Linked DNA regions of Homo sapiens. The protein of the gene in region 2 purifies or fractionates together with the protein of the main gene of each other region. This does not show direct contact. Each region holds a gene or a part of one and is shown on either strand. Other genes may lie near its edges.

Region 1 (12,161 bases), on a different chromosome or scaffold from region 2:
GGCTTAGGTGCAATATCTCCTAAGTGTGTGTGTGTTCTTTTTTTTTTTTTTTTTTTCTTGAGACAGAGTCTCACTCTGTTGCCCATGCTGGAGTGCAGTGGCGCGCGATCTTGGCTTACTGCAACCTCCACCTCCCGGGTTCAAGCAATTCTTCTGCCTCAGCCTCCTGAGTAGCTGGGATTACAGGCACGCGCACCATGCCCAGCTAATTTTTTAATTTTTAATAGAGACAGGATTTCACCATGTTGGCCAAGCTTGTCTCGAACTCCTGACCTCAGGTGATCCACCTGCCTCGGCCTCCCAAAGTGCTGGGATTACACCGCACCCAGCCCCAGTTGTGTGTTCTGCACTGTTTCCTGGGAGTCTTCAACAAGAGTAAGCTCCAGCTGCCTGCCATGTAGCTTACTTGATAATGCACACTGTTTTTGCCTTTCTTCCTTTCCCTATCTGGCTTCCCCACTTCCATACTGGCACTTTCTGGAAAAAGTACTTGTACACAAATCCTTATCTCGGGGTCTGCTTCTGATGGAACCCAAATTAATATACCAACAGTCTGTAGAATAGCTCACATTTACTAAATTTAACACATGTACTCGTTTGGCTTCACTCACTTTGCACTCCTTATTTCTCTTTCAAGTGGTTGTTTCTCTAGCTATGTTTTCTTATGGGCCACTAATTCTTTCATAGTCTCTACTATGTGCCAGGTGCTGGAGATACAGCAGGAAAAAGAATAGACAATGGCCCTGCTACCATTGGGGTTCCAGTCTAAAAAGGAAGACAGGCTTTGAACAATTAATTTCAAGGGTGAATCATATCATAACAAGGAAAATGGAGGGGGAGGAGAGATACAGTAGTTGGATCCAACCTAGTCTGAAGGCAGAGATGGTGTCTCGCAGAGGAAGTAACACTGCAATTGACCTCTGAAGGATTAGTACAAAGTAGTTCGGCACCATCTCCATTTGGCTTCCCTGACCAGCGGTTTGTCTTTTTGAAGCCTAACAATCACAAATGTGGCAAGGGATCAAATAAAGCTTGGAAGAGCGATATGGTCAACACAAAAATACGAAACAAATCCCAAATTACCAAGAACCTTTATTTAACCTACCAAACTAAAAGAGCAATAAAATAAAAATATTTTCCATCCACAAAACGGTTTTACATCAACTACACTGACCAATACAGAGAAAAGGGAAATCCCTGAGGAACTGCCAACAATAAATAATATACTTAAAATAGAATGTTCTGAGTGTAAAGGAACATTTCCTGAGCCCGTTCAGTTTGGGGAAATTTGGCCCTTTGCAAAATTCAGTTTCTCAAAAGGATATCCAACTGATGCAAGTTTCCTGTCATGACAAGAAGCTGTCATGTTCAGTAGCACCTTACACGAAAGGTGGGGAAATAGGCCGGGCGCAGTGGCTCACGCCTGTAATCCCAGCACTTTGGGAGGCCGAGGCAGGTGGATCACCTGAGGTCAGGAGTTTGAGACCAGCCTGACCAACATGGTAAAACCCTGTCTTTACTAAAAATACAAAAAATTAGCCAGGTGTGGTGGTGGGTGCCTGTAATCCCAGCTACTCAGGAGGCTGAGGCAGGAGAATCACTTGAACCCGGGAGGCAGAGGTTGCAGTGAGCTGAGATCATGCCGCTGCACTTCAGCCTGGGGGACAGAGAGAGACTCTGTCTCAAAAAAAAGAAAAAAAGATGAGGAAATAATCAATCTTCTTCTGATCAATTTGTCCATAGTTCTGGAAAAGCTACTGCACAGAGCAGGAGAGGAAACTATTTGCTCTCTGTAATACTGAAAAACTGAGAGTGCTATTTTAACTTGTCAATAACTAAAAGGTACCATTTTCTCATAGTGCACAGGTGTTGTACAAAAAGTACATGACCTCCCTGCTGTTTGTGAGTGAAAAAGGAAAACCCAAATATTTGTGAAAGTGTAAGACGGATGCATTTAAAATTCTGGGGTCTAGCAAGGGAAAGATTCTCTGTGAAGACCCAAAATTGAGGACTGGTTTTATAACTCTAAAATTATCTTGAGGAATGGAATCAAAATATGGTATTTCATTGATTCTAAGATGTATTTTTTTCATACTTTAGCATCTTAAATTCAGATGGGCTTGGCCATCAATAGTCTGTCCCAAGTTTATTGGCAACTCCTCGACCCCACCTTCTTAGTGCAACATAAAATAATGGCATGTTTTACAATCAGTGGCTCCTTAAATTAGATTAAACATCATGCTCTGTAGTTCAGCATACACAGGGATCCACATAAAAATAAATCTGACATTTAAACCCTGGTGATTCTCCCAACTGAAAAAGTGCTGGCAAAAATATTTGGCATCTTAAATTTCAGCATGAGCATCACAACTTCAGGAAGGGTTAGAAGAATAGTGATGTGGGTTGGGCTCAGGCTCTAGTTCTGGTTCTGTCCCTCATCAGCTAGGAAAACTGTAAGGAAATTAATTTCACACTTGTAGGCTTTATTTCCTCATCTGTAAAATGAGAAAGTATGATCAGGCGGCTTCTAAGTCTTCCAGCCAAAAAGGAAGGTAATTTTAAATCTTGCACCACTGAGGCTGTGTGTCGCCGTGGAAACTCCACAGCCAGGCTGCCCAAAGCCAAAGGAGCCACTACTGCAGTTGGTGGCTCAGAATCCTCTGCTGCCACCTCTGCTCCTCAAGTGGATGCTCCAAATCCAGAAGTGGATTTCATGCTTCCCATGTTGAAAACCTAATTCATTCATAACCTGAGTAACTGGGAAAGAATAATTCTTCAGAATGGGGCAATTTGTAAACTTCAAAAAACTGCAGAACTCTACTTGCTTATGTTGTCCTAAATGTCTACCATAAATTTTAAATCTCTAAAAAATTATAGCAAGGGTTCACTTCAAAGTCTTCATTGCTGACATAACGTGGCTATAGGTCCTGCTGCTCTGGGTGCCCTTTCCATATCACAGAAGCACTAGCCGGAAAAAGCTCTGGTTTCTGAAAGAAAATAACAAAGAAATTTCCTCTGAATGAAAGGTGCTTGTCAATACTCTCTCCTACCTTGAGAGTATATTCAACAAGAATAAGGGTGCAGGCCAAGGAAAACAAATGGTGAGGAATGGGTATTCCAAGCAATGAGAAATGGAATGTGACGATAACAGCATTGCTTTATGGTAAATAATACATACATTTACATTTTTATACATATTTCAAATTTGAAATTTTTAATCTATCTTTACCTAAACATGTTAGAATTAACAACAGGAATAGCAGCTAAAATCAACAACTACAAAACAAATCACAAATTCCTAACTCTTCTTGTTTAAATTTTTTTTTTTTTTGAGACAGAGTCTTGCTGTGTTACCCAGGCTGGAGTGCAGTGGCGCAATCTCAGCTCACTGCAACCCCCGCCTCCCAAGTTCAAGTGATTCTCCTGCCTCAGCCTCCCAAGTAGCTGGGATTACAGGCACCCGCCACTGTGCCTGGCTAGTTTTTGTATTTTTAGTAGAGATAGGGTTTCACCATGTTGGCCAGGCTGGTCTCAAACTCCTGACCTCAGGTGATCCGCCCGCCTTGGCCTCCCAAAGTGCTAGAATTACAGGCATGAGCCACCGTACCGGGACCCTGTTTAAATTTATTTTCCAAAAGTTCATTCAAACTATTTTAATTGTTGTGATAAGTTGCTTAGTAAGTTATTCACTAAATTAGACTTCCTTCTTTAAAATTTTCTGAAATTCAGTATATGTTGTATACTGAATATGAATGTGTTGTATACTCCCTTTAGTAAAATTTTCTGAAATTGATGTATATGTTGAACCCCAACTCATTGAACTGGCACAGATTCCAGTGAACTCCAGTGAAATGATATAACTCAAGTACATGTGTTGGCACTAGCATCTTGCATTCAAACATCACACTCTTAGACTCTGAGGAACTACAGTTGTTGGGTCAAGTGGTACTATTAAGCTACTAGAATATATTCTTTACCCAAACAAGTAAGAACAGAAAAGAAAAAGGTAAAAAATAAAAAGAAACACTTAGGACTGCCAGTGACCTGCCCATCATCTACACAGTGCTCCAGAGAGCAGGTGCCACATCTGAATTCCAAGTCATTGATTTACCAGGTTTCCACTCTGCCTCTAACTAGGGCCTTGCCCCTTTCCATGAGAAAGAGGGAGGCTTATGAAATGAAGAAGAAATGATGACTGATTGTAAAGACTAGCATCTATTTGTAGATTTGTAGGTCCTAAGTTATATATAGTTAAAGAACAGGGTACTTTATGTCTTCAAGTTCCATATATTTTATAGCAAAGTTGCTTAAATATTAAATATATTAAGCAATTATATTAAGCAATTTAAGGACTTATGTTTAAATATAATAGAAACCAGCTGATTCTTTCCTTTGACTGAGTCTTGCTCTGTCGCCCAGGCTGGAGTGCAGTGGCGCAATCTCAGCTCACTACAACCTCCACCTCCTGGGTTCGAGTGATTCTCCTGCCTCAGGGTCCTAAGTAGCTGGGGCTACAGGTGCCTGCCACCATGGCTGGCTACTTTTTTGTATTTTTTGTTTGTTTGTTTTAGTAGAGATGGGGTTTCACCATGTTGATTAGGCTGGTCTCAAGTGATCCACCTGCCTCAGCCTCCCAAAGTGCTGGGATTACAGGCGTGAGCCACTGTGCCCAGTCATTAGCTGATTATTTTTATGTAATTAGGACAAGTTGGCATCTGTCCTAGATAGCCAGTTGGCTATAAGTCACAAAGTAGGTGTTTTTAGAGGACTGGAGACAAACAATGTTTGATGTGCTCACTTTGGTGGTATAGAACGCTATAGAAAATCACCCTGGAGCACTGTTAAAATCTGTTTAGGTTGATAAATGACAGTATATGTAACCAACACCAAACCAGGAAGGGTGAGAGAGAGGCTGTTGCCTTTCTCTGTTGACTTCTGGCATCCCACCCACCCACTGCCTGCCACTTGGTCTTCTGATACTGTTATCCAGGGCATACAACTAACAAGAAATGCGAAGACGTGTAGTTCAGAAGTGTAGCTCAGTCCACACTGAGATCAGGAATATGTAAGTGGATCAACCCTTTAAAACAGTTTTTAGTCAAAGCAGTAACACATTTTCATTGCAGACAAATTCAAAAACAGGAAGGAAAAATATTACCTATTTAGGAATATATCTCTTCAGACCTTTTCTTAGCTCGTGTGTACCTATATAATTCTTTTACCCCAAGATAAGCCCACTGGGGTAAAAGAATGATACTTTATGAAGAGTTTTTTTTAGTATCGCTACTTTGGCTTCTGAGGCATTTCTTCACATCTGTGAAGAATGATTTTGACTTGGAGAATGTTCCAAGCACCTGAGTGCCTAAGAAAAAGTCACCATGCAGTATATCTTTGCAGCTACAGTTGGCTTAGCAGTGTTCAGTCCTCGTCTAAGAATCCTCATGGTTTGCTTATTCAGAGCAATAATAATCTGCAGGATGACCTCCATGATGACCTTGTGTGTATAATGAGTGTGATATCATTTGCACTTCTTTTTATTTGACTTTTCCTCTTTTAGATGGTGGGAGAGTAAGCTAAAATCTAAATTACTTTAACAGTGAGGATGATGTGTGTTTTGTTGATGAGCACTGCCTTAAATCCAGGTGTGTAATAACTATAAAAGAGCTTAATAAGAGCAGATAAAGAGGGCTGGGCATGGTGGCTCATGCCTGTAATCCCAGCACTTTGGGAGGCTGAGGTGGGCAGATCACTTCAGGTCAGGAGTTCAACATCAGCCTGGCCAACATGGTGAAGCCCTGTTTCTACTGAAAATACAAAAAATATTAGCTGGGTGTGGTGGTGCATGCCTGTAATCCTAGATACTCAAGAGGCTGAGGTGGGAAGATCACTTGAACCCAGGATGTGGAGATTGCAGTGAGCTGAGATCGCACCACTGCACTCCAGCCTGGGTGACACAGCGAGACTCTGCTTCGAAAAAAAAAAGCAGATAAAGAGTTACTGTGGAATAATCAATGAAGGAAAAATAACCTCATTCAAATAGGTATGGAGGGGTCTCCAGTCTGCTTCCAGCTGTGGGATCCACAGAGGTGTCCTGAAGGGACAGCATGCTGGCCAGTGTACCTGCCTCATGCAAGGCCTTGCTAGTTTGTGGTAGTGTTATAAATAAGGTTCAAAGGCTTCAATAGCACAATTACCAGTCTACACATGACTCAATTATGTGAAAAATAAAGGTTCTTACCATTGATTTTACTGATAGAGCAAACTGTAGTCATCAACCAAAGAGTAATTGGGATCATCTGCAAAAGGCAGAACACAGAAAACAACAGTAACATCAATTTTTCATAATAAGATCTCACCCTTTTCAAGCCAGGGCATTTCACTTACAGATTCTGGTGTCTATCCTTTTGTAAAGAGAAAATAGATCTGCCAACAAAAACTATAAATGGTAGTCACGACTCCAAACCAGAGGACATTCTGGAAATCACTATTCTGACTTCTTTGCCCTTTTTCATCCATGCTCAGGTACAGTACCCACAGTAAAATCATCTTTAAAAATGGACAGAAATAGCATCCTACATTACCAAGTGGTAATTCTAAAACAACAAGAAATAAAATACCTTAAATCTTCATATTGTTCAAAGATATAATTTCAGCCACTACAGTTTTTTTTCCATCACTAAATTTTTAGTGAACTGTTAAGTGCAGCATAAACTGTCCTCCTCCCTTATTGATAGGTTTTGGCTCTGTGTCCCCACCCAAATCTCATCTTGAATTGTATCTCCCATAATTTCCACCGTTGTGGGAAGGACCTAGTGGGAGATAATTTGAATCATGGGGGCAGTTTCCCCCACAATGTTGTCCTGGTAGTGAATAAGTCTCACGAGATCTGATGGTTTTATCAGTGGTTTCCGCTTTTGCATCTTCTTCATTTTCTCTTGCCACCACCATGTAAGAAGTGCCTTTCACCTCCCGCCATGATTCTGAGGCTTCCCCAGCCATGTGGAACTGTAAGTCCAATTAAGCCTCTTTTTCTTCCCAGTCTTGGGTATGTCTTTATCAGCAGCATGTAAACAGACTAGTACACTCATTCTCTTGAACATGGATAGGTATATCTTTTCTTTACTCAAATAATAAATATATGTTGAACACCTACTATGTACTCAGAACTGTGTCAGCTGTTGTGAGTAATACAGAAGACAAAGTTGTACCTGACCTTGGGATCTTCTTATTATTCAAGGCATACAACTAATGAGAGCTTGTTTGGAGTAGCTGCAGGGGAATGCAGCTACTCATATACTCTTGACCAAAGACTGGCCCTCCTCTATCAGAAATGATCATCCTCTTTGAGCACGTAGCTTCGGGAGGGATGCACACGGACTGGTGAGGGAGGAAGGGGACACCCGCTTAGCCAGCCGGATGCACCGAATCAACCCTAGCAATCAATGGGCTGACAAATGTTGCAGCCAGACTGCCCTCACATCCCATACAACTAATAAGAAGTGCTAAGATGTGTACTTCTCCCAGAGATATCATAGGCGTTCAAAGAAAGAAAAAGACTACTGTGATTAGTGAAAGGTCTCATTAAAGATAACATTAAGTGACACGTTTCTTGACATCGATGCCTTCTATAAATTGTATTTCTATGTAATCCAAGGGGAACTATATCTCAGTTCTGCTGTTCTCACAGTCCAAGTTGAAATAATCTTTTAGGTAAAATCTGCTTGCAATAAGTTTCTTTTGGTATTTCAGTAACTGAATTATCTTGGATAAGCTATAAAATAGACCACCAATTATCATATTCCACTCTGTGACAAGTAGTATTATAGTAAGATTCTAATATAGGCTCATTCTCTTGGGAATTTGATTCTATTTAATCCTTTCATTCCCTTTATTTCAAAGTTCTAGCTATTTAATTTTAAAGAAAACCCAATATAAGAATTTCGTGGGTTTTTTGGGGTTTTTTTGTTTGTTTGTTTGTTTGTTTGTTGACACAGTTTGACTCTGTCACCAGGCTGGAGTGCAGTGGTGCAATCTTGGCTCACTGCATCCTCCACCTCCCAGGTTCAAACAATTCTTGTGGCTCAGCCTCCTGAGTAGCTGGGATTACAGGCACGCACCACCACACCCAGCTAATTTTTGTATTTTTAGTGGAGACAGGGTTTCACCATGTTGACCAGGCTGGTCTCAAACTCCTGACCTCAAGTGATCTGCCTGCCTTGCAATATAAGAATTTCAAAAGACCTTTTTTAGTGGCATACCTGGTGAGCTTTTAGGAATTGGGAGGGGTCCTCTCCTGTAAGAAATGAAAACCAAAGTATTTTAGATAAGTTCTTGTTATTTTTATAATCTTTTTACTTCTTGCTACAAGCCTATTGTACTCTAATCAGATCTGGTTTCTGCACTGGAGGGTCAAGAAAGCTCACCTAAAGCAAATGATCTGTAGCACTGACCTACGGAAATCTAAGTTGCAGACGTCGTACTATGGCAAGAGGCAGCATGCATAGTGATTAGGAGCACAGAGCCTTATCCCCACAACCCGGACTGGCAGGATTAAAATCTTAGCTGGGTAGGAAAGACTTCCTGAGTGCCTTGAACATCCGCATCCTCATAAGTAAAATAGGAAGTATAAACAGCTCCCACCTCATTGTGGGGATTAAATCAGGTAATTCACACTAACTGTTTTGAACAGTGCCTGACACGCTTAAATACTGATAATGATCATGCAATCCTTCCCAGGCACTCCCCATCTTTACTAAAACTGGAGTGAAAATTCAAAAGCTTAGACTGCAAGCTGACTATGTCAAACAGAAGTTTCTCTTTCCGCAGGATCCTTTACATGAACGGCAGCGAACTTTTTGAGTAAAGGGCCAAGTAGTAAATGATTTAGACTTTGCTGGCCACCTCCCGTCTCTCTTGCAACTCTACTCAACTCTAGTGGCAAAGCAGCCATAGACAAAACCTCAGTGAGTGAGGGTGCTTGTGTGCCCATAAAACTTGATAGAGGAACACTGAAATTTGAAATTCAAATAATTCTCACATGTCACAAAACAGTATTGTCTTGACTTTTTTCCAGCCATTTAAAAATGTAAAGACTATTCTTAACTCACAGGCCCTATAAAAATGGATTTAACTCTCAGGGGCCATAGTTTGCTGACTGGCTGTAAGAAAAGTATAGGATTTCTACAGACTATAAGAAAAGTATAGGATTCATCCATGAATAACAATGATCAAGTTCAAGCATGATATACTCCTCCCTGAACTATGACTATTAAAATCCACTTAATATTTGTCCTAAAAATACTATTTCCAAAAAGCAAGCAGCCTTATTAAGCAGATGCAGTAGTAGATATGTTCCAATTCTAACATGTCTTAGAACATTCATGATAACAATGTTTGTTAAAAGTATTTTTCTTCATATGAAAGGCAGCTGGTTATTACCTTGCCAAGTTAGGCCCTGTAGCCTTTCCTGCTGGGACTGCATTCTTCTGGGAGGAGTAGAAATTCTCATACATGATGGGTGCTAGGAGAGTCACCAAGAAACAGGACATGAAGAGGCAGGCGTCTTTCATCCTTAATGACATCTAACAAGAAAGGCTAATAGAATTGTGTAAATAACACTCCCCACCCCACTGCCCCATTCACCTGGTGGAATCTGTCCAGTTTTGCGTTGATTCACAAAGTATTCAATGTCCCTCTGAATGCTGCACATTTCTAAACTCTTTCGGACTTGTTCGTACATCTAATAAAAAAAGGTCAATTAATAGGTAGAGGTATGTTGAGATCATTGTGACACAGCTCCTTAAAAACATGGGTTTGAGGCGGGGCGCAGTGGCTCATGTCTGTAATCCCAGCATTTTGGGAGGTTGGGGTGGGCGGATCACAAGGTCAGGAGTTCGAGACCAGCCTGGCCAACATAGTGAAACCCCATCTCTGTTTAAAATACAAAAAATTAGCCAGGCATGGTGGCAGGCGCCTGTAATCCCAGCTACTTGGGAAGCTGAGGCAGGAGAATCACTTGAACCCAGGAGGTGGAGATTGCAGTGAGCCAAGATCACACCACTGCACTCCAACCCCAGGCGACAGTGCGAGACTCCGTCTCAAAAAAAAAAACAAAAAAACAAAAAAACATGGGTTTGATAGAGAGCTGACTCTTCCAAATTTTCTTGTTTTCAAAAAAAAAGAACACATTCCAAAGTCCCAGATTCATATTGGAGCTTTTCTCTGATGCACATCTGCTATTAATTTTTTATTTTTTATTTTATTATTTTTTTTTAGACAGAGTCTCGCTCTGTCACCCAGGCTGCAGTGCAGTGCAGTGGTGCAATCTCAGCTCACTGCAACCTCCACCTCCCTGGCTGAAGCAATTCCCCTGCCTCAGCCTCCCAAGTAGCTGGGATTAGAGGCACATGCCACCACGTCTGGCTAATTTTTTTTGCATTTTTAGTAGAGACGGGGTTTCACCATGTTGGCCAGACTGGTCTCGAACTCCTGACCACAGGCAATCCGCCTGCCTTGGCCTCCCAAAGTGCTGGGATTACAGGTGTAAGCCACCGTGCCCAGCCTACATTTACTATTAATTTTTTAAAGATGACAGAAAATGTATCTTTGTGGCAGGACAAAAGCCTTGGCTGAATTTTTTTTCTTTTTTTGAGATGGAGTCTCACTGTGTCGCCGAGGCTGGAGTGCAGTGGCACGATCTTGGCTCACTGCAGCCTCCGCCTCCTGGGTTCAAGCAATTCTCCCACCTCAGCCCCCTGAGTAGCTGGGATTACAGGGGTGCACCACCATGCCCAGCTAATTTTTGCATTTTTAGTAGAGACGGAGTTTCACCATGTTGGCCAGGCTGGTCTCAAACTCCTGACCTCGGGTGATCCACCCGTCTCAGCCTCCCAAAGTTCTGAGATTACAGGAGTGAACCACCGCTCCCAGCCATGAATCTCTTAATGAGAAAATCATGGTGGCAAATGAGCCAGGAGTCAGGTTACATGTTATCTGCATCCTTCTGTCAACTCACTGTATGGCCTTAGGCAAGTCACCTTACTTCACCAAGGGCAAAGTGAACCAATCAATATCTATAGTTCCTTCTACTCTAATGTATCCAACATGCACACGACAATCCTCAGTGGATGCCTCTGACTTACTTCATCACTGGTGACACATTGTTGTGACAGCTGATTCACATGTAACCACAATGCATTCCGGAAGAAGTTTATTCGTTCACATTCTTGAGCCTCAAATGCCTACAGAAAAATAGCTACGTGTACATAGATATGCAAGGAAAAGGACCATTCATTTTGGCTAGCTGTGACTTAAGAAACAGTGTCAACCTTCAGTTATCTGTAAACTTATTGTCCAATTTAGAATGCTTCTCCCCCACCACTGAGGAAACTCATAAACTCATATCACAAAGAATGCAAACAAATCCTAATATCACAGTAACACAAACAGGCTTGGAAATAGTTCTGAGGGTAAAAAGTAATGATGATCCCAGATACCAATGTTCTAACTGAGTTCCTACCGACATTTCCAACTATCTAACATCATCTCCACCTGAGCAGCCTGCCAGAGCCTCAGATTCAAAATGCTGCCCCTCCCACCCTGGAATGAATGAGTTTGACTGGCAAGATGGTCATAATTGTTGATGCTGATTGATGAGTACATGGGAGGCCGTGTACTTGTCTTCTGTCTTTGTGTATGTTTAATTGTTTTTCCTTAAAAAAAGGGTTAAAATAAAAGTCATTGCCTGAGATACAGTATTTTGGATATAAACAAATATCACCTTTAAAAAAATCAAGCTGTTCTATGAAGCAGATGGTATTCTATTCAACAGTGGATGTGATACATCAGTGTATTTTTAAAATATTGAATACCATAGCTATTTTTAACATGAATGAATTTTACATACCATAGCTTTTATATACCACAGCCCCTTTTCCACTCTATGAGGAGAAAAGGATGGGGACAGGTATAGCTATAAGTGGTTCTCATACTTGAATTCACATCAGAATCACTTGGAAGGTTTATTAGCATAGAGATTGCTGAGCTCTACCCCCACAGTTTCTGATTCAATTTCATATCTCATACTACAGGTTTTATTCAAAACCAAAAAATTTTGAATGCCTTTTAAAATTTGCTACATTTTAAAACTTGTTATAAAATAA
Region 2 (12,161 bases):
ATGTTGGCCAGGCTGGTCTTGAACTCCTGACCTCAAGTGATCCCCCCACCTCGGCCTCCCAAAGTGCTGGGATTATAGGCATGAGCCACCGCGCCCGGCAGGCTTCATTTTTCTCTTCCACCTCTCTTCCTGCCAGACTCCCGGGCTCCAATATCCCAAGAAAGAACAAATTAGGGCAAAATTAGGGCAGAAAAAGTAATAAACTACACCAGAAAAGGAGGAACCCTGAAAGTAGAAAGCAAAAGGGTATAAAAGAGGAAGCAGGGTCATGGGGATGGGTTTAAGTTTGTGAAGAAAAGATATGAGATCTAAAGGGTGAAGGTATTTCTTTGCCAACTACAAGGTAGGGGTGTGAGTTCCCTAGAGGAAGTACCATCAAGAGAAGTCAGGGGAATAGTTGCCAAGAGGATAAAGTGAAGAGACTGGGTGCGGTGGCTCACACCTGTAATCCCAGCACTTTGGGATGCCGAGGCAGGCAGATCACTAGGTCAGGAGTTCGAGACCAGCCTGGCCAGCATAGTGAAACCCCGTCTCTACCAAAAATACAAAAAAAATTAGCTGGGCATGGTGGCAGACCCCTGTAATCCCAGCTATTCAGGAGGCTAAGGCAAGGAGAATCGCTTGAACCTGGAAGGCAGAGATTGCAGTAAGCTGAGATCACACCACTGCACTCCAGCCTGGGTGACAGTGTGAGACTCCGCCTCAAAAAAAATAAAAATAAAAATAAAAAAGAGAATAAAGTGAAGAGAGAGCTCAACATCCCTCGTGGGCCCTGAAATAGGGTGGAATGTGTGAGAAACCAGATTCTGTGTGTGCTTGATAAGCTAATAGTAAGTTCATTTGGTTTGTAGATGATACTACCCCTTTCGTTTCAAGAAAGGAGAGGAGAATGGGGATCCTGGCCAGTATAACAAGGAGTATTAGATTCTAGAAATTCGGATTGAGTCATTTGCATGTTATTCTCACAGACTAGTAAATAAAATAAAGTCACTCCCAAAAAAGAACAGAAAGTAAAAGAAAGCACAAGACCACGATATCTTTGCCTTGAAGGACTACATTACTGGATAGAAGACGTAGCATTTTAGATACATTTTAGGGAGAGGAAAATTAAACTTGGCCCTCCTGTGCTAGGTGGGAGAACACAAAGTTTGGCTGTCTCGAGAACTCTGCAAGGTAGTTCCTCAGTGCCTTGCAAATATAGGTCAGTATTATACCAAGCCTCCATCAGGACAGAAGAAGTACAAGTGGTAAGGAATGGCATTAGGAGCTCAGGCTTCTAAATCCAGTAATCAGGAGAACTACCAGTAGGAATGGAGGACAAGACTGAATTGTACGAGCGTGCAATGCAATCATCTTCAACAAGACTGACAAACTTATCGAGGTTAGTTTCCAGTGCAATAGTGGGGCAAATGGGTAGGTGGGTAGGCAATAGCTAAATTGGGGTGAGTAAACCAAGAGGTTCAACTTTAGATACATAAAATGTGAGAAAATGGCAAGAAATGTGTGTGTTGTTGGTTGGTTGGTTGGTTTTTGAGACAGAATCTTGCCTTGTCACCCAGCAGAGAGTTCAGTGGCGCAATCTTGGCTCACTGCAACCTCTGCCTCCCAGGTTCAAGTGATCCTCCCACCTCAGCCTCCTGAGTAGCTGGGATTACAGGCACCTGCCACCATGCCCAGCTAACTTTTGTATTTTTATTAGAGACAGGGTTTTACCACGTTGGCCAGGCTGGTCTTGAACTCTTGACCTCAAGTGATCCGCCTGCCTCAGCCTCCCAAAGTGTGGGGATTACAGGCGTGAGCCGCTGCGCTCAGCCAAGAAATGTGTTTTAAGTGTCCTGTGAGTAAATGAAAATGTAGGACTAGATGGTCCCTAGTGAGAGGCTGGAGATGGTGTTAGAGAAATCAGCTTCAGAGGTGATGTGATACATTTATTCTGGTGGTGGCATTTTTAAAAATTGCACCTTAATGTGCACAAAGGTCAAGAAATGCTGATAAATATGTTCAAGTGATAGGCTGATTCACAGGAATGAGTAGTGTCAATTCATAGATGTTTGTGCACTTGCTCTGTAGGAAGTACCTTGTTGATAACTGTTTGGTTAGTATCATTACTATAATATACACAGAACCAGGATGTATCTATGTCTCCTTTATAGAACCAAGATGTAGCCAGATCTTTGATATGTCTCTGGTCTTCTAATGAATCTCCAGAAGTTGCAATAGTACCAGTCTGATTTCTAGTATAGTTTAAACTGTTAGCACCTAAACCTGGCCTTCAGAACTAGGTATCTTCTTTCTGTTAGGATTCAATGAATCCTTTATATTTAATAAATATATATATATATATATATATTTTTTTTTGACATGGGATCTCACTCTGTCATCCAGGCTAGAGTGCAGTGGCGCGATCTCGGCTCACTGCAACTTTGCCTGCAATCCCAGCTACTCGGGAGGCTGAGATAGGAGAGTCACTTGCGGTGAGCCAAGATCGCACCATTGCACTCTGGTCTGGGCAAAAAGAGCAAAACTCCATCTCAAAACAGACAAACAAACAAACAAACAAAAAACTGAAATTGTGGTAAGTGCTATGAAAAATAACAAATGGTGCTAATAAGAACTTACAATAGAAGATTTGATCTATTCAAAGAGGTCCAGAAAGCTTTCTCTGGCCAGGTGTGGTGGCTCATGGTTGTAATCTCAGCACTTTGGGAGGCTGAGGCTGGAGGATCACTTGAGTCCAGGAAGTCAAGTCTGCAGTGAGCTATGATCAAGCCACGGCACTCCAGCCTGGGTGACAGAGCAAGACCCTGTCTCCAGAAAAAAAAAAAAAGAAAGAAAAGAAGAAAAGAAAAGAAAGCTTTCTTTGAAGAATTGACCACCAAATTGAGATCTAAAGAATTATTAGTCGGGCATGGTGGCTCACACCTGTAATCTCAACACTTTGGGAGGCTGAGATGGGAACCCTAGAGGTTGAGGCTGCAGTAAGCCATGATCACACTACTGCACTCCAGCCTAGATGACCAAGTGAGGCCCTGTCTCAAAAAAAAAAAAAAAAAAAGGCCAGGCATGGTGGCTCACGCCTATAATCACTTTGGGAGGCCAAGGTGGGCAGATCACGAGGTCGGGAGATCGAGAGACCATCCTGGCTAACACAGTGAAACCTTGTCTCTACTAAAAACACAAAAAATTAGCCGGGCATGGTGACACACACCTGTAGTCCCAGCTATTCAGGAGGCTGAGGCAGGAGAATAACTTGAACCCAGGAGGCAGAGGTTGCAGTGAGCAGAGATCGTGCCACTGCACTCCAGCCTGGGTGACAGAGCGAGACTCCGTCTCAAAAAAAAAAAAAAAAAATTACCAAATGTTATCTAGGTAAAGAGGAGTGTGAGGAATGTTCAAGGCGGAGGTAACAACATGTGTGCAAGGCCCTATGGCAGAGGAAGCATGGCAAGGACAAGAAAATGAGCATGCTATAAGAAGCTGGAGAGACACCATGTAGGACATTGATAGCCATTTTAAAAGGTTCTTTGGGAGGTAAATGAAGTTCTATTTGTGAAGCACTTTTAGCACAGAGTCTGGAACACAGTTCTATGGATTAGCTGTTGTTACTGTGGAAAGTAGATGAACAGAAAACGTATATAAGGAAATGCAGATTTAAAATAATCATGGAACATTTTAAGGCTCAGAAATCCAATGAATGAAATTAACATAATAAAGTACTATTTTATGCTAGTTATATCAGAAAAAAAGTCATGATTTTTACCTGATACAGTTTAAGTACAGAGGTTAAGAGGCTTTGAAAAAAAACAGACTGGTTTCAAATCCGGGCTTTTCCATTTCATGGGTAAAAATGAACATAATATTTTCCTCTTGGGGTAGTTGTAACGATTAAACGAGATCACGTACGGCAAAGCACTTAGCAGATTGCCTAGTACATAGTAAGTAGGCAAAATGTTTTCATCTTTTATTCTCTTTTATATTTATTAAGTCTAGCAAGGTGGTAGAGAAGATGATAAATTCATATATTGCAAATTAGAAAAACTCCTTTGGAAATACATTTGGTAATACTTAACCAATTAGATGCTAATAGTCTTTGACCCAGTAATAACATTTTTGGGGATCTAGCCTAAGGATTAATCCAAAAGAAGGGAAAAACCACATGGAAAAATATATTCATATTAGTGTTATCAATAATCATGAAAAACTAGAAATAACTGTTTAACAATGGAGAAATAAATTATTTGGGTATTACTATGTCTCAGGAAGTTTATATACTTATTATCTTCACAGCAGTTCTTCAAAGTGAATATTATTCCCACATTTTACTGACTTAATCCAAGGTCACATAGCTAATCATGGGCATAACTTAAATTCAAACCAAGATTTATATGACTCCAAAGTTTTTATGACTTCAGATGACAAAGCAAGACTACCTGAAATTGAAATTCAGTTCCACCACTTACTAGCTATGTGACCCTGAGCAAGTTAATTGACCTCTCTGTTTGTTTCCTCACCTATAAAATGGAAATGAAAACAGTACCTTCCTCAATGGAGCAAATGAGTTTATATATGAGTGTTTAGAACAGTGTCTGTAAGAGGTATAGAAGCATTCTCTATTATGATTATTATTCTTTCATTATAAAACCAGATGGACAGGCTGGGCGCGGTGGCTCACACCTGTAATCCCAGTACTTTGGGAGGCCAAGGCAGGCAGATCATGAGGTCAAGGGATCGAGACCATCCTGGCCAACATGATGAAACCCCATCTCTACTAAAAATACAAAAATTAGCTGGGTGTGGTGGCACACTCCTGTAGTCCCAGCTACTGGGGAGGCTGAGCCAGGAGAATAGCTTGAACCCGGGAGGTGGTGGTTGCAGTGAGCCGAGATCATGCCACTGCATTCCAGCCTGGTGACAGAGTGAGACTCCATCTCAAAACAACAACAACAACAACAACAACAACAAAACCCACATAGACAAATATATGTCCATGTGATGATGCTGCATCATCAACTATTAAAAATCATATACATTTTAATCAGCCTGATAATTTTGGTATAATGGTAAGTGAAAATATGAGAACACAAAATTGTATCTATGCTATAATTACAATAATATTAAAAATTTACATAAATGGACAAGAACTAGAAGATCCACAAAAAAAGCTATTGTTGGTTTTCATGTGTGTGTATGACAGGGTCCCACTCTGTCTCCCTGGCTGGTGTGCAGTGGTGCAATCTCAGCTCACTACACCCTCCACCCCCTGGGGTCAAGTGATCCTCCCACTTCAGCCTCCCAGGTAGCTGGGATTACAGGCATGTGCCACCACTTCTGGCTAATTTTTTATTTTTAGTGGAGACGGGGTTTCATCATGTTGCCCAGGCTTGTCTTGAACTCCTGGACTCAAGCCATCTGCTCGTCTCAGCCTCTCAAAGTGCTGGGATTACAGGCGCGAGCCACCTCACCTGGCCAAGATCCACAAAAAAAGTTTTGATTTGTTAGAATGTTGGTATTATGGTGAGTTTACTTTCTTTTAACTTTCAATAATATTGTTTTATAACAATAATAAGGAACGTTTGAAAATACCTTTAGAAATTTCAACAGTATAGTTGCATCCTGCTGTTTCTGCTGTGTAGAAACTATACTAACTATGTCCTTACCCTAAAACTTACCCTAAAACTAGGTCCTTTGAGAGACTCAGTGTCATTGGATGAAGTAGAACACTATTGGATAAGGATTAATGTTACAGCTCTGTAATAAGACAGATCTGAGTTAAATTTCATCTCTATGGCTGAACAGCTGAGTGAGCTTAGGCCAATTATTTAACTTCTCAGAGCTTCAGTTTCCTCATTTGTAAGTCAGAAATGACATTTGTAGCTATTTCACAGGGTTTTCTTAAGGAGTAGTAAATAAGAAAATGAATGTTGATGTTTCCTTGACCACCTCACCCAGACTATCACAATTATATTAAATATTTAATATAGCAATTAGTTGTTTAATGTCTGCCTCTCTAAGACATATCTATTGCCTTATAACATAAGCTCCACTAAAGCATGGAGCATTGCATTGCATTCCTAGCATCTAGGGCATTACTTTGCACACAATAAGCACTCAATGAATGTTTATATGAATGTATAAAAACCTTAGATGGGTGGTCAGTGGTAGTTTCAACTACAGAAAAGTTACTGAATTTAGTCCTGGCACAGGGAAAAGACATAAGCAGCATGGCACTGGCTTCAGCTGCCATTAACAGGACTGCCACATCCAATTATGAATACAGTCCTCTCACAGTATCTGTGGGGGACTGGTTCCAGGACCACCCCCTTCAATTACCAAAATCTGTGGATGCTCAAGTCCCTCATATAAAATGGCATAGTATTTACACATACTATACATGACCTCTTGTATATTTTAAATCATCTCTACATTACTTATAATACCTAATACAATGTAAATGCTAGATAAATTGTTGTTATGCTTTATATTTTTTATTTTTTGTTGTTGTGTTATTTTTGGTATTTTTTTCAAATATTTTTGATCCATAGTTGGTTGAATCCAAGGATGTAGAACTTGGGGATACAGACAGCCATCTGTATTGTTCTCTGTACAAAGATGTATGGCCAAGAAGGAAGTGGAGACTGAAATCTGAACCATGGACCTGGGGAGAGGGTAAAGGGGTTAGGATGCTCAGGGAATCTACCTGGAAATAGAGATGCCTTTTGATAATTCCCTTAAAGTTACCACCAGTTAAGTGAACAGTGGCCTTGTGTCACAGAATGAGTCCTCAAACCTCGGAAACATAAAATCCTGGGAGAATACATTAAGGGCTTAAGATGGGACACAGAACATGACCAGATGGAAAGCCCTCTGATTTAGTGGCAGTATTTACCTTGTCCAAGCAAGCAGTCTAGCCTCATTCACTACTCCTCTACTCCCCCAAAGCTCTCTATCTGGTGTCTCATCTGAAACCTTTAGATGGAGCTGAGAGGAAGACTCTATTTTTCCACTGGAGGACATGAGTCAGTGAACAGTGAGGTTACACTTAATCACTACCCAAAAACAAGGTCCTTAAAATCAGGAGCTAGAAAAGCAAGGAAGTGATTAATATAAAAGTCAGGATAGTGATTATCCCTTGGCCAGGGTAGGACAGGACAGGGGCAGATGGGTGTAGGGGACCTGATGGGGCATGGGTCTTCGGGGGTCTGACAGTTTCTTGACTTGGGTAGTGGTTGCACTGCTAATGGTTGCTTTATAATTATACTTAAATGTTTTATGTACTTTTCTAAATGTGTATTATATTGCACAATATTAAGCAGCTAAAAAAAACTATAACAAGTTTTTAAGCAGGGAAAAAATGACCAGATTTGGCTGGGCGTGGTGGCTCATGCCTATAATCCTAGTACTTTGGGAGGCTGAGGCGAGTGGATTACCTGGTTGGACAGACCAGCCTGGCCAACATGGTGGAACCTTGTCTCTACTAAAAATACAAAATTAGCCAGGCGTGGTGGCTCATGCCTGTAATCCCAGCTACTTGGGAGGCTGAGGCAGGAAAATCGCTTGAACCAGGGAGGTGGAGGCTGCAGTGAGCCGAGATGGTGTCATTGCATTCCAGCCTGGGTGACAAGAGCAAAACTTTGTCGCCCCCAAAAAAAAGACCAGATTTGTATGATTAAAAGATCACTTGGGTGTTGAACTGAAAATTGACTGAAGGTGGGGCAAGGCTAGAGGCAGAGAAGCCAGTTAGGAGGTAGCTGCTATATTTTGGTGAGAAATTATAATGACTTTAGCTGAGAAAAGGTAAAATATTAGGGATATAGTCTACATTTTTTTTTTTTTGAGACAGAAGTTCGCTCTTGTTGTCCAGGCTGGAGTGCAACAGCTCTATCTCAGTTCACTGCAACCTCTGCCTCCCGAGTTTAAGCGATTCTCCTGTGTCAACCTCTTGAGTAGCTAGGATTACAGGTGCCTGCCACCACGCCCAGCTAATTTTTGTATTTTTAGTAGAAATGGGGTTTCATTATGTTGGCCAGGATGGTCTCAAACTCCTGACCTCAGGTGATCCACCCGCCTCGGCCTCCCAAAGTGCTGGGTTTACAGGTGTGAGCCACTGCCCCCGGCCAGTCTACATTATTTTAAAAAACACAACCAAAATAAAACAGAGGCCGGCACTGCCCCTCAGCTCACTTTTTACATCTATGCCTTGGGTTACCTTGGCTTAGGAATTATAGTCCAGGGGCAGGGACATGTATACACATGTGCTAGAACTTCCTACTTATCTCCTTTCAGGTAACTCTACCAGAGGGGCTCAGACTGATCAGCCAGTGGCAGTGAGAGCACATTTTTCATAGTACCACAAGATTATCCATGTTGAGCTGACATCGGAGTTCCTATCATAATATCTAATCACTCAATAATATCTAATTACTCAAGACTTTCAGAGTGTTTTCACATCTGCTATCCGGTACCAGAGTGTTAGCTCCAGGAGGCAAAGGTTTTGGTTCTTTTTGTTCACCGCTGTATTTTTAGTGCTTAGAACTGAACTTGGTACATACTAAGTGCTCAATAAATGGTACTCAATAAATGACCACATTTAATGATTGTTATTGATATTTAATCATCACAACAATCCTGTGAGGATAGGTAGGACATGTATTATTATCCCCATTTTATAAGTTAGAAAACAGAGAGATTTAAGAACATGTCAAATACTTCATAATTTGGTGAAAAAAAATCATGATTTAATTTCAGGTTTGTACTTCAGTTCCCCTCTTTCCACCCATTTCTTCACAACTGAAGAGCTAAGGTTTAAAATTCTTATATCTCTGAAACGCCAGCTGTAAGCATTCTAAAATACATGATAGGTACTATTAGACACCCTATGTTATCTGATATCTCAGCTTGTAGGGTGAATGAGGCCTACCCAGCTGCCATTGCATCAATAATCACAGTTCTCTCAAAGGAGATTCACTGTTCTTCTGGGTAATCTAATCCACCCAACCTGAAGCTACCTTGTACTCATGTTTCTCTCCTTGACCTACACTTGTCTCTACTCTCCATCCTAGCCATTCCACTTCTCCAAGCAAAAGAAGTTAAGGAAGCCCTGTTATTGAAAAAACACATGTTATAATATATTTTTCATATGAAAAAGAAAAGAAAAATGATGGCCAGACATAGTGGTTCATGCCTGTAATCCCAGCACTTTGGGAGGCAAGATGGGAGGATTGCTTGAAGCCAGGAGTTCGAGACAAGCCTGGGCAAAAAAGCAAGGCTCGTATCTACAAAAAAGAAAAAAACAATTTTTTTTTAAATTAGCCAGGCATGGCGATACACACCTGTGGCCCCAGCTACTCAGGAGGCTGAGGCAAGAGAATCACTTGAGGCCAGGAGTTCAAGGCTACAGTGAGCTGTGGTTGCACTGCTGCACTCCAGCCTGGGTGACAGAGTAAGATTCTGAATCTTAAAAAAACAAACAACAACAACAAAAAAAACTGTGGCAGTGGGTAGTTTTGGTGCTCTTCAAAAACCTTTGTCAACCAAATAGAATCCCAGAGGGGAGGCTAAAAATGTAATATTGCATGAAAAGTTAACATTGGTCTCTTTCTTCTTAATATTAATTAAAATTAGTAATATAAAGCATAAACCACAACTTAGATACCTGGGGAAATCTGGATGTTCAATTAATATTAGTGTTTTTACATCTGGAGTTGTATATGTCTTCTGTAGGATTCCTAACCAAACTCCAAAGAACTAGCAAACAAAATATTAAAACCAGTAATTTTGAGAGAATACCTGAAATACATGCAAACCACTCAGAGAAGTCAAACTTTTTTTTTTCTGTCTTCCCCGCCAAGGTCTCATATTTACTTTATCCCAAGAGCAATTTGGTCTCGGAAAATTGGACCCCCATAGTCAGTTAAATAGTGTATGTAACTACCCTGAGAGGGTCACATACAGGACTCACCAGAAATTCATTGGCAAACTCCTCTTTAGTAATTTTCTTGCTTTGGGCCTCATCCAGGAACTTCTGCAGAATTTCTCTTTGGTCCATGCTGCAGAGCAAGAAAAATAGTCTATAAGTAGGTTGAGGGAGGGCATGTCAAATGTGTGTCATGGCCGAGACACCTCCAAAAAGCCACTGCTGCCGCCTGAGCAGAGCATGCTGAAGGCTGTGGTTTACTGACTTCATCACAAGCCCTAGAGGAAATTAGTACGTAACCACCTTCTGTGGTCACATAACACAGCCATCATCTCACTCCAGGGCCCTAGTGCCTTCCTTCTCAGCAAAGGAACCTGGTTACAATTCAAATTTTTAACAAACAAGAGGCTAACTAGAACGTAAAGTGTGGTCTGCTTAACTGAGATTATTCCATTCCATCACCCATATGCAAAACTCACCTTTCTTCTTGCCTCCCAGAGAAAGAACAGAATTACAGGTCTCCTGAATGAGTTCTGTCTCTCCCCATTTTCCCAGTGAGCACAAGGGCCAAGTTGACACCTTCTGTTTCCTTATGTCCCAAATGAACTCTGCAAAGTTCAGTTAGGCCCAGGAAAGAAGACAGACACTGTTTAGAGTGAGTGACATGTCTTCTACCCGGACTGTTCATCGAAAGGTTTCTTGTCAGTGTGATCAATGAGAAACTTCTGTTCATCACAGAAGGTATTTTTATTCATAACTTTTAAGTCTGCTATATATACCTCAAACTCCCTTTTGAATGAAGCAAAGTCAGATGCTTCTGACAGTCTGTGTCTCTCCCAGGACTGGGGAAGTGCTGACCTCCATTAAGGGAAGTGTTGATTTCAGCACCTCTTCAACCCTCCCAGTAACCTTTGAAGCTTCACTTGGGTTCTGGATATAAAGACTAAGAGTGTTGGTCTATATAGGATCTAGAGCAAGTGGCCCCCACAAGGAGCACCTGACCAGACAGTTAGCTCAATACCCTGCATATGTAATGCTGGTAAACTGTGATGGAACAAAAAGAAAGTAAAATCAACCACCTTGCTGACAACATTGTAACTTTTAGGGCAGAAAGCCTGAAGAACTGTTTCTAAAGAACACATTTCTACTCTGCAACCAATGTCTTAGGAAATAAATTTGTTTCAGGAAGTTATGCTGTGCCTGTGGCATTTTGGCCCTGAAAGGCAGGCTCTTCTAGAAAAACTTTCCACATTTGAGCTTGCATAACCTCTCAATGGGTACAAGTCTACCCAAGTGCCTAATTCAGTGTGAGAACATCCAAAAATCAGTATATCATCTTTATTGAAGGCAGAAGTTCAACAAATGTTAACAAAATTAGTCTTGATCCTGAAGAAAACTGGGAAATGTGTTGTTAGGACTTCCTCTATTTAAGATATTAGCAATCCTTTCTGTTTTGCAACATTATTCAAACTTCCTTCAGGATATCATGATTCTGAACACTGCTTAATCTGAACATTAAAGATACTGCATGCTCTTTACTAAGTACTGCAAAAAAAAAAGAAAGATCATCGAGATATCTTGGTTATAGACAACTTAAAGACAATATTTCAAATTAAGAAACTCAATCCCAGTATACATAAATTAAAATAAACCCTCATTCTTCAGCAATATTTGTTAGGAATAGTATATTTCTTAAATTATCCCCATCTAGAATTAAGAGAGAATTTCTTGCTGCTCTAAGTAACGTGATGTTTACTTTGGCTATTTTAAAACATAAAATATGGGAAATCTTTGATTTATAAAAATACAAAATTTCAAGTTTGTAATAACTAAAACCATGTAAAAGTGTGTACATAGTTAAAGACTAAAAGAAGCAAAAAAGAATCAATTGTGTAAGTTTGCTTTCTAAAATTATCATAATTTTAGAATTATGATAAAGTTTGCTTTCTAAAATTATCATACCGTTTTTAAAATTAGAAATAAACATTTAAAAATCCATTAAGTTGTTCAACAAATTTATTGAGTACCCACTAAATTCTAAACATTGTCTTAGGAGATTGGCATACAACACTGAGAAAGCCAGAATATGGTAAAAACAAAACAAAACAAAACAAAAACATCCTTAGCCAGTTAATAAAGCAACTCAGAACTAAAGATACAGACATGATTACTGATAAAAATTAAAACACTCCTTAGGTAACTTTGGGAAAGAAAATAAAAATAAAAACATTCCAAACTAACTTGCTTA

What was found.
Region 1: the proteins of PTPN22 (region 2) and PSTPIP2 purify together in Homo sapiens (affinity purification with mass spectrometry; 2 studies listed by BioGRID and IntAct, with this or other methods). This does not show direct contact.

Annotation. Positions count from the first base shown.
Region 1 is NC_000018.10:45,982,464-45,994,624, forward strand, and holds the end of PSTPIP2 (proline-serine-threonine phosphatase-interacting protein 2), read right to left. Parts: intron 11,241-12,161; coding exon 11,142-11,240; intron 9,740-11,141; coding exon 9,643-9,739; intron 9,521-9,642; coding exon 9,439-9,520; intron 8,294-9,438; coding exon 8,259-8,293; intron 6,297-8,258; coding exon 6,247-6,296; 3' UTR 6,239-6,246; intron 2,988-6,238; 3' UTR 1,073-2,987; downstream 1-1,072. UniProt on the Homo sapiens protein: Binds to F-actin. May be involved in regulation of the actin cytoskeleton.
Region 2 is NC_000001.11:113,861,579-113,873,739, forward strand, and holds the start of PTPN22 (tyrosine-protein phosphatase non-receptor type 22), read right to left. Parts: upstream 10,135-12,161; 5' UTR 10,046-10,134; coding exon 9,959-10,045; intron 2,700-9,958; exon of another isoform or gene 2,620-2,699; intron 1-2,619. UniProt on the Homo sapiens protein: Acts as a negative regulator of T-cell receptor (TCR) signaling by direct dephosphorylation of the Src family kinases LCK and FYN, ITAMs of the TCRz/CD3 complex, as well as ZAP70, VAV, VCP and other key signaling molecules.